Regions from separate parts of the Homo sapiens genome. Here region 1 is linked to region 2. The links come from fine-mapping of genetic effects on gene expression. A gene starts in region 2. The other region holds a variant in brackets. All regions are shown on one strand. Distances are from middle to middle.

Evidence for each region. PIP is the estimated chance that this variant, and not a neighbour inherited with it, causes the effect.
Region 1: its variant is the best candidate, but not a certain one, in a credible set for the expression of COL4A2-AS1 in thyroid (GTEx, PIP 0.71).

What each region holds. Positions count from the first base shown.
Region 1 is chr13:110,351,156-110,356,526 of GRCh38, reverse strand. All of the region lies in intron 3 of COL4A2 (collagen type IV alpha 2 chain), which reads right to left. Among named protein-coding and RNA genes, the nearest start is that of MIR8073, 13 kb to the right of the region's middle. RefSeq lists an enhancer at 3,107-3,619. The variant C/G (reference allele first, on the strand shown) is at 2,941.
Region 2 is chr13:110,505,769-110,511,139 of GRCh38, reverse strand. COL4A2-AS1 (COL4A2 antisense RNA 1) reads left to right here and starts at 2,961. Exons shown (of 3, transcript NR_046583.1): 1 at 2,961-3,041; 2 at 3,389-3,493. COL4A2 (collagen type IV alpha 2 chain) reads right to left here. Exons shown (of 48, transcript NM_001846.4): 46 at 4,534-4,725; 47 at 2,919-3,205. RefSeq lists enhancers at 2,539-3,038, 3,039-3,540.

The DNA of each region.
Region 1 (5,371 bases), 150 kb after region 2:
GAGGAGGTGTCGGTGCAAACGGTGGCTCCCTCATGGGACACCCATCATGGTGATCAAAGGGAGGGCCATGTGAGGAGGAGGGACTGGCAGGTGCATCTGGCGGGATGCCAAACCCTCATCTGCACCACCGATATCACTTGCGACTTCATTTGAGGGGTGTCGGCAGAGGAAGTCCACTTTCTTTCCCCTTCGCCCTACGGGACACACTTATGCTCAGTAAGGAGGAGGAATGCCGGGAAGAGGCTTTCCTCAGGACCTATTCAGGCAAGTGGGTGACCCCATTGAGTGTTTCATCAGAGAAGGAGATACAACCTTAAGTGAGTCAGTGGGAAATGGAGGGAGTTCCCTGGATGGGCAATCCCGATGGGGCAAAAAGGTGTTTCTCATCCTTGATCTCAACATTCAGATCAAAGATGGACTTGGAGATTGGGCTACTGGACAAGTACCTTAGCTCTTCCTTTCAAATCGTGACAGTATTAAACGTTTTGAGATGATGGCAATCAGAGTGACCCTCTTTTCTCCCCTTTCTGATCAGCCGAGTCTCAGCGCAGGCCTCCTCTCCCCTGACAGGTAAGCTAGTACAACCTTCATTCCACAGGTGAGCCAGTGCTGCCCTCCGCCCTATACAGGTGACCTAGTGCAGCCCTCAGCCCCCACACAGGTGAGCTAGTACAGCCCTCCCCCCCACACACAGGTGAGCTAGTGCAGCCCTCCCCACTCACACAGGTGAGCTGTACAGCCCTCCACCCCCACACACAGGTGAGCTAGTGCAGCCCTCCCCCACACACACAGGTGAGCTAGTGCAGCCCTCCCCACTCACACAGGTGAGCTGTACAGCCCTCCACCCCCACACACAGGTGAGCTACTGCAGCCCTCCCCCACACACACAGGTGAGCTAGTGCAGCCCTCCCCCACACACACAGGTGAGCTGGTACTGCCCTCCCCCCACACAGGTGAGCTAGTACAGCCCTCCCCCACACACACAGGTGAGCTAGTGCAGCCCTCCCCCACACACACAGGTGAGCTAGTGCAGCCCTCCCCCACACACACAGGTGAGCTAGTGCAGCCCTCCCCCACACACACAGGTGAGCTAGTACAGCCCTCCCCCACACACACAGGTGAGCTAGTGCAGCCCTCCCCCCACACAGGTGAGCTAGTGCAGCCCTCCCCCACACACACAGGTGAGCTAGTGCAGCCCTCTCCCACACACAGTTGAGCTACTGCAGCCCTCCCCACACAAACAGGTGAGCAGTGGCTCACAGGTGAATCTTAATCTAGCTTTTCACCCTCAGCCAGCCTCTGCCAGCCTGCCTGGAGCCTCCCTATTATCACACAGTTACACCTAAGGGACCCTGGACAAGGCTGGCTTCTGGTGTTCACTGATTGAAACCTTATCATGCAAGTAAAACTTACCAGATGACAGAACCCTTTCCAATGTTAAGCAAATTGTATTTTACCACAGCCTTTTCACTCTCTTCTGAGTTACGTGTCAATGACTAAACAGGACTATCACTTGGGGACTCCCTCTGTAAGTTGTTTTGTGATAGCGGGTCTGCTGGAACCTTCCCCTTTCCTGTCACCAGCTGCATGTCCACGTGGAGGTGCAAGTGGCATGGCCAGGCCCACTCTGCCACTGCCGCCCAGCAGGGTCTTCCAGATAGTCCAGGGCAGAAGGGCAGGACACGCAGGCTTCTGACCCAAAACCTCCTGGCAAGAGTTGGCCTTGGGTTCCAGCAATGACTCCATGTTCCTTTTGTATGGGTGATTTTTTTTTTCTTTCAGCTAACAATTTTCTACTAGAGAACTCTCATCTGAGAGTTTCACGTTTTTTATGTTCTTCTTATAATTCTTTACCTAATATAGTATCTGATGCATCAGTTACTACTATAAAAAAAAAAAACTCCAAAAAGTGGAAAGTCCCAAACCCTTCAGAGAAAACAGTACCTTGAAAGCTTTTACATTTCTTTCCAGTGATCTTTTTGTCTTGAGTGAGGTAATGAGGCAGCTGGAGTTTATGGTGTAAAAGTAAACATATATAAAATCCTCTCACGCCCTGAAAACACGATCCTAGGTATTTGCCAATTTTTCAATGGCTCCAATGTTTATCTGCAATGGGGCTCATAAATCCCATGATTTGAATATGTGATTTCTAGAAATCCAACTCCATACTAAGCCAGAAAGTTTAGCACCAAAGCTCAAGACTAGATGGGCTGGCGCATTCATGCCTTTTACTACACGTGAGGGAGGCATGAACAGGCGCTTGGCAGAGGTCCTCAGTTGACCCAATAATTCATTGGCCAGTTGTCTGGGAAGGGCAGGCGGGCCTCCTGGGTCTATAGGGTAAAGCATCAACTCATATCCTCCATCTGCTGTTTCCCAAGCTATTTTTAATTTTGATTTTAAAGCCACTTGCCAAATCCCTCCATATAAATCAAAGGTTGAAATGATTTGAATGGTTTCAAATTGATCTAACAGACTCCTTATTCTAGGTTTACGATATTCACTGTATTTAGTTGTAGTGAGTTATTCATAACCCACTCAAAAATGAATGATGCATTCTTACTTTTGGAACTAGGACTTGTAGGCTGATTAAGATACCTCCCAGTAACACTTTTCTACATGTACCGATGGCTCCAGTGCTATATTGTGAGGGAAGGAATACCTCATTGAGAGGCAGCCCTGCTCATTCCACGCCAAGGCAGTTTCCATGGACATGCCAGCCGTGCGTGCACACACGCACGTGCATGTGTGTATGTGTGTTCCCACTGACATCTTACCTGTCCTCCAGAGAGAGTCTTAGGAATTCCAACATTTACAAGAGCCCGAAGTACCACACTTTGGAATGTGAGGTCTCCAGGAGGAACAGAAATATTGACTTATTAGGGCAGGGTGTGTGCTTCAGACAGTCTCTTAAAAACTCAACAAGTCTCTGACCTGAGC[C/G]TTGGCATCTCCTGAGAAGACATGGGTCTCTGAAACAGTCTCGAGACACAAATGCCTCCCTGAGGACCTCAGAGGAGGAGTGTGAGGACTGCTATGTGGTGTCCCATGTCTGTGGCCTGGCCACTCCCTCCAGCAGAGGCATACCGACTGCACGCACCTGCTGCCACCCTGCTCTCAGCCCTCCAGCCTATCCCTTCATTTTACTGCTTAACGCAAATCAAAGACAAGCCGCGATCCTATTCTTGTCAACTCCTTAATAAAAATGATGAGTTTCCTCCCACCCTGCAGCCTCCTCAAATCTCTGCTCACCCCCTTCATGAAGAAACACTGGCCCTGGTCCATATTTTAACTTCAGTCTCCGTGAGGCCTGTTTTTCCCTATAAGGTCTGGTTTGCCTCAGTGTTCTTTAAAGAATCCTGCATGGGTCTCACCAAGCATTTGACACACCTCTTTTTACAACAATCACAGGCTCATGAAAGAAACATCAATTCAATCCTCCATTAATTTCTCATTTCAAGTCTGAATTTCCAAGGCAGCAACTGTGTAGGGCAATTCCAATGCCCAGCTCTCACTGACGCCCCCTGCAGGTGTGCCTGGCTGCTGACCCCACTGAAGCTCGCAGGGCCAGGAGGTTCCTGCAGCTCCTACTGCAGGTGTGGAACGTGATCCAGGCTCGTGGGGCGTGCTGTAGCCGTTCAGCCCGGCTGGCCAAACTCCTGTGGTTGTCTGGGTGTCCTTCACCCCAAGGCAGGAAAGGACTCAAGGCCTGGCGGGACCAGTTTTACAGAAGGCCTGTGAAAGCTGGTGGGGGCACCCTACTCCCTGGAGAATGCCTGACTCTCACCTCCTCATAGGCACACAGAACCTCCCCACCCAGGGAACTCGGGACCACCGAGGAATCTGAACCGTATCCGGCACCTTCCTTCAACTGCACCAGTGAGAGGACACCTCACATCCCCAATTCCAAACTAACATGACAAAGGGCAAGGGGCTGGGAGGTCCTTCATCCACGCTTTCACTTTACAAATTCATTCACTCATGATCACTGATGTGAATTTCCTCTGAGCCATGCACTGTGCTGGGCTCTGGGTATAGAGTAGGGGGCAGATTAGACATTGCTCCTGCCCTGTGGCAGGTGACCAAGTAGACAAGAAGGTGAAATAAGTAAACAAACAACTAAACCCACATAATTTAAATTCTGGTAAGAGCTGCGAAGAAGAGGATGGTTAGAGAGCAAATTAGGAACAGTGGGTCCTTAAGTATTGCATTATCCTGTTCACAGAGAGGACTGGCTGTGTTCAGGCCTGCGCCCTAGGGCTCTGCTATGCTCCACTATTCCTTCTATGCCTACCTCCCAAGGCCAACCTCCCTGCCTGACAGCCTGAGGCTCTCACTGCTAGAAAGCAGAGACAGACTGGCTACCCCTAACCTCCAGGCCTAGGAGGGCACCACCTTCATGCCATCATCATCGTCATCATCATCATCATCATGATCATTATCAGGGAATCAGGAACATCCTGAGTTGGAGTGACTCGAAGCCCATTCTTCCTATGACTTTCAGGATGCTCCAACACTGCTGTGCTCCCCAACTTGCAGCTCAGGACTCCATTTCAATCTAGTGCCGCTTTTCAGTACCCACAGTTGAACATCCTTAGTCCCTACTCAGCTGACAGCCAGCTCAGTGGCTTCCCAGGCGCATTGGCCAGGAAACTTCAGACCTAAATTCCAAATCATGGAAGGAGTTTGCCTAGGGGGATGAATCATTACTTCCCTCAGCAAATGAATGAACATTTACTGAGGACCTGCAGGCAGTCCTACCTTGCCAACTATCTCATCACACACCAACCTGGAGGCCAGACCCCATTGGACTTATCTGCTCCTTCAAGAAAGGCAGAGGAATTAAAGAAGCTGGCAGAGGCACTGTGGACAAAGGGAAGGGGTGCTAAGTCTGATTATTGTAAGCTCTTGACATCTTTAGTGTTGTGGAACCAAAAGGAATAGTTCTGAAAAATAAATGTGAATTATACATTTTAGGAAATAAGTGTCCAAAGCAGCATAAACCTAAGAAGCAAGGTAGACTTGAAAGTCTCTGAGCTGCAAGGAAGAGATGAAGGACCGGTCATTCTTGCACCAGTTCTTAGGGACAAAACCCACGCCGGCAAGGGAGGAGCAGGGTAGAGAAAGCCACAGGCAGCAAAGAAGCAGGAGAGAAGGCTGGGTGCGGGGGCTCATGCCTGTAATCCCAGCACTTTGGGAGACCCAGGCAGGCAGATCGCTTGAGCTCAGGGGTTCAAGACCAGCCTGGGTAACAAAGCAAAACCCTGTCTGTACAAAACAAACGAACAAACAAACAAACAAACAAACAAAAAGAATAGCTGGGTGTGGTGGTGCACGCCTGTGGTCCCAGCTGCTTGGAGGGCTGGGGTGGGAA
Region 2 (5,371 bases):
ATTTGGCTTGGCTGAGCAGGCTTTGAGTGGTAAGTGGGCTTTGGAATCTGTTTACTTAGAATAGAAATATCTCAGTTCAGTTTGCAGGGAAAAAAGGGGCTGTTCTATGATATATTTGGGCAGGGGCCCCAGTTTAAGCTTTCCTTTAAATACAAAAAAAAACCCAAAAACCTTTAAAAAGTGTTCTGCTCACATAAGGCAGAAGCCTGTCCAGCCCTGAGCTGCCTGCTCTTGTCTGCTAATGAGCAGGTAATAAGAAGTGGAGACGTCCTCCAGGGCACCTCCGGCTTCACTTTGGTCTGAAGGAGCTGAGGCCATGCTGGGAGCTGCCCAAAGGAGACACCTGGGACTCCCAGAACGAGGTCAGAAGGGAGCACAATGTGAGAAGTCTTAGAGGCTGGCACCAGCCAGGTAAGAGCTGAGTTTGCTGCGCACACACACATGCATACATGCACACATGCACACACATGGTGTACACTCATGCACACACACAAATGCACGCATGTACACACACACACACACAGTGCATGCTTGTGTACACACCCCTATGCACACACGTGCATAAGTGCACACAGTCCAGGCACACGCACCCTTTCCAATGTGCTTCTCTCAGTGGACAAACCTCTGGCTTGGTACTCATAGCAGCTCATGTATCTTAAGAGAATTGCCTGGACGAGAGGCTGACCTGGAGAAGGGGCTGTGAGGGCTCCAGATAGTAGCCAGAATTGAAAAAAGAGGAACTAAAATAACGGCTGGCTAGATACTTGTAGCCTCTGCCAGAGCAGCTTTGAGAGAGGCCACCGAGGGGAGGGGAGGAAAATGACTTTTGCTGCTGCAGTCTGCATCCGGGGCTCTGCCCTTGTCCTCCCTCCCACGTGGCGCTCGCTTGTAGGGAATGCAGAAAATGCATCCTCTGGGGCCACCCATCCTCACGGACAAAAGAAGGGTGAGCCAGGCGCTAGCCTCAGCACTGCTCTCGCCTTCTGCGTACCCACTGGGGACGGTGGGGCAGTTGCTCTCAGCCAAGCTGTCCTCTCCTCTCCAAAGTCAGCTCTTATTATGCTGAGATGCCAGCAGCCCTAGTGGTACCATATGCTTGTCACCACACAGAAGGGATCAAAGAGTATTTAAAGTGCAGACGAGGCACACAGCTGTCTTGGTTTAGGTCCTGCCTCCTAGACGGCAGTCAGGGCACATCTGGAGGGGGCACATCTCCAGTACACAGATGTGTCTGCTCACTTATCCATTGTCAGGGACAATGGGGACTTTCTGTTCTCAGAAGTCAAGGTACTTCTGGCCCATCTGTCCTGACCCAGGAGCCGTCTCAACCCATGCCTTTTGGGGATGTCAAGTTCCAGGCTTGCTGGGGCTGTCAGCCATTTATGTAAGCAGAGAGTTACGTGTGCAGAGGATAATGTCTGCTTATCTCGTGACAGTCATTTGAAACCTGATGCTAATGGAACAGGGGATGCCTGACCTTTCTGGATACTGTGTAATCATGCCCTTCACAAGGGAGAGGCTCATTTATTTTGAATTTAACAACGGGAGTGAAAAAAACAGGAGCAACCAAAGCTTACTTCCTGACACAGGGGCACCCTGAAGGTCACTGTGAAACAAAAGAAGGTTGCTCCAAAGTCACCTTCCATGATAAGCTTCTGGAAAGGTAGAAATTGTGCCTGTCCCTGCCCAGGATTTAGCATCCTGTTGCTCCAACTTATCATAGCAACGATACCTATTAAAATGCCAATACTTGTTTATCTTTTCCTTCCTTTCCTAGAATCCGGATTTTTTTTCCTGTTGTTTTGAAAGATTAGCAATCACTATGTAATTTATATTTTATGTTGTGTGTGTGTGTGTGTGTGTGTGTGTATATATATATATATATATATATATAATTTATGAAATATTTAACATGCTGGGCATCCAATCCATATAGCTGGAGTTATGACAGTTATAATGCATATAAATAAACTCACTGGAAGACCCACTGTCCTCAGTGAGACTTTCTTTTCTCCCTACAATAGTATACAGATGGTCCCTGATTTACCATGGTTAGACTTAGGATTTTTGAGTTTTCGATGGTGCAAAAGCAATATGTATTCAATTCACTATTTGATTTTTGGTGGGGTTACATCCAGATAAACCCATCATAAATTGAAAACGCACTTTCAACTTATAGTATCTTCATCTTACAATGAATTTATCGGGACGGGACCCTATTCCAAGTTGAGGAGCCTCTGCTTTAATAGGCAATATTGCAAGAGACACTATGGTGCTGTGGTCTCTCCCCTGGAGGTTAAGCTAAACCTAATCTGGCCAAAGCTGAGGGTTCTCTATTTTATACCCAAAGGCGATCCGGAAGGGTGGGCGGTGCCTTCCCAGGTCCTGGTTGTGCACCTTCTCCTGGCTTTCAAAGTATCCACAGGCTCTCTATTTTATACCCAAAGGTATTCCAGAATTTTCCTCACGAATATATATCCATTTTAAGCCAGCCAGTTAATAGGTATTTCTTCAGGGTATTCTAGGTTCCAGATAGATTCTAAATAAGATCAGGATTCTAGAGAAAAGTCTCCCATATATTTAGACTTCTGGTAAACCCAAAGCAGCTGCACCTTTGGTGTTGGTGTTGTACCTAGTAAGACGGATAACAGGCAAGTTCGTCCTGGTTACACTCCTTACAAAGGCCTGGTGGCAAATTAATGAGCCCTTTCTGGGTGGAGGAAGCCCTGTGCCCAGCATGTGGCTCAGTTAGCCAAGTGTAAGCTGTGTTCCAGCTCTCGCTCGCTTCCTGGGCCAACTACCCTTGTGCAGTGCACACCCTGGACTGCCGTGTCTGATTCTTCTCACAAAGGCAGCTGTTCTTGCTGTGTCCCCAGCAGGGTGTGGTTGGGGAGGGGAACTGGGCAAATACCACATACCATGAGGAAGGAATATCCGATCCACAAACTCCGCCACCCAGCTGGGCAGTGTGGGATGGAGACATCCTGACTGTGGACCGCGATGGCGATGGCCGGGGCCTCACACACAGAACAGCGGCTGATGTAGGGCTTGATCTCGTCCTCGGCCACGGGCATCATGGGCAGCGGCGCAGTGGTAGAGAGCCAGTAGGACTTGTCGTTCCGGCTGGCATAGTAGCAGACATCACCAGGGTTGCAGTACAGGAAGGGCATGGTGCTGAACCGCGCCAGGCAGGAGCCCGCCAGCCCTGTGGAAGGAGGGGTCATGAGATCACAGTGCAGTGTGGCTAGAAGACGCACCTGCCAGCCCCAGCCAGGCCCAGGAGGCTGTGTGTCACGGACTCGCCCCAGGGCACCTGGTGGAGTTTAGCCACCTACTGGAGGGCCAGGCTAAGGCTTCCCAATTTCTTTCTTTTTCTCTTTTTGATCAGACTCCACTGGCATTTTGGAACAGCTCTGTTCTTCTACAAGTTCTCACACATACTGGGCCAAGTTGGATCACCAGGGAGTGGCGTCTTCATGGAATAGCATTTTGGGTGAGCCTTACCTTAGTGGGGTCTTAACAGCACTGGCCCCAAGAAAACTCTGATGGCCTCCAAGGGGTCGCTCTTTGACCCCAAGGAGCCACCCCAGAAGGAGTCCTGGCCCTTCTCCCTTCCATGTAGCTTTATTGCTTCTGGAGACTAAGATAGCCTTTATCTCCTGGCCACAACGAATGCTGCAGCTAAGCAGGTTTCCCTCTTCACATGGATTGCTGAAAAGCTCAGACCCAGAAGTGCAGCCACCTTTAGCAAACATGCCCGGTGCTAGGCTGCCTCCTTGGCCCTGTTCCTAGATCTATTTTTGGCCCTTATCCTTGGCGGCCTTTGCCCCGTTGTTCTTTAGAAACTCATTGTGGAGGCGGGGCGCACAGGCAGGAATGTGAAGGCACCATGAGCCAGCAACATGCTTCCCGGGGGCAGAACGCCTGATGTAACCTGCACCGAGGAGGCAGAACACAGCCAGTATCCCAGAGACCCTTCCCGTCACCCCCTCAAAGAGGACCTCAGACTAAGCTACCTCCACTTGTAATTTGTGTGTATTGCATTTTCTGTATTCGAAGTCGCGTTAATGCCTTTCAAAGGCTTCCTTAAATAAGAGCATGCACACGTGTCCATGGGTCCATTTTCCTCGGGGGGCTGTATGGGAGAGTCTTACATGAACCCCAGCCCCTCATGGCCCCTGCCTGACTCCAAGTCTACAGAACTTGGGTCAAAAACAAGAAGGAGGTGAAGTAATTGGTGGTCTCCACTGGAGAGGGGTCGGGGGTCAGACGGGTCACATGGGAGCCTGCGGAAGTCAATACCAGGTTAAAAGGCAGGTCCCTGTGTTAAGGTCCTGAGGTTTAAGGGCTTTGTAAGGCTTCTGCTTCAAAGGCCGTTTTAATCTTTCTGCACTCGAGGAATGTAGATGGACCCTTCCGTCAGGGGAACTTACCAGCCGTGGAGGGTTTGGGAGTCTCGCTGTGGCCCTTTGATCTTGGCCACTTCCGGGCCAGCCCTGAGCAGGCAACGGGGGCCGGGTGGGAGGTACCTACCCAGGTCCTGGTTGTGCGCCTTCTCCTGGCCCTCGAAGTACAGCAGGCTGTATCCACTCCAGAGTTTGTTCATGCCCACTGGGCACATGGGCTCCTGGTCCGTCTGGCTGTGCTTCACCAGGAGGTAGCCGATGCTGACGCTGCGGCCTGGCATACCCGGCAGGCCCGGGCTCCCTGGACGGCCTGGTGCACCTGCAGCCCGAGAAAGAGAGAGAGTGGACGGCCTGGTGCACCTGCAGCCCGAGAAAGAGAGAGAGTGGACGGCCTGGTGCACCTACAGCCTGAGAGAGAGAGAGAGAGTGGACGGCCTGGTGCACCTGCAGCCCGAGAGAGAGAGAGAGAGAGAGAGTGGACGGCCTGGTGTACCTGCAGCCCGAGAGAGAGAGTGAGTGGACGGCCTGGTGCACCTGCAGCCTGAGAGAGAGAGAGAGTGGACGGCCTAGTGCACCTGCAGCCTGAGAAAGAGAGAGAGAGCAGCCCCCTTGACAGCCGCCCCACAGAAACCTCGGGACCCAGGAGTGCAGGGCAGTTTCCAGGTGCGCCTAGAACCATCGCTCTCCTTCCCCAGATCTTGGGGCTCAGTCTGTTGAGATCAGGAGACTCTTGGGAAGGATTTGATCCACACTTTGTTCTCAGTAGCATGAAATGATGGCAGTGAGGGCACTGGGCACAGAGGAGGGGTCCTTTCCATAAAAGACTCAGTCAGCCATAGGTAGGCATGTGCCCCTCAGGATGTGCCCAACGTGCCTGGCGTTGGAAGTGTCCGGAGGAGTATCGCAGGCCAGCCCCCACCCCCAGCAGTGGCCTCCCTCCGCTGGACACTTCCAGGAGACATGGC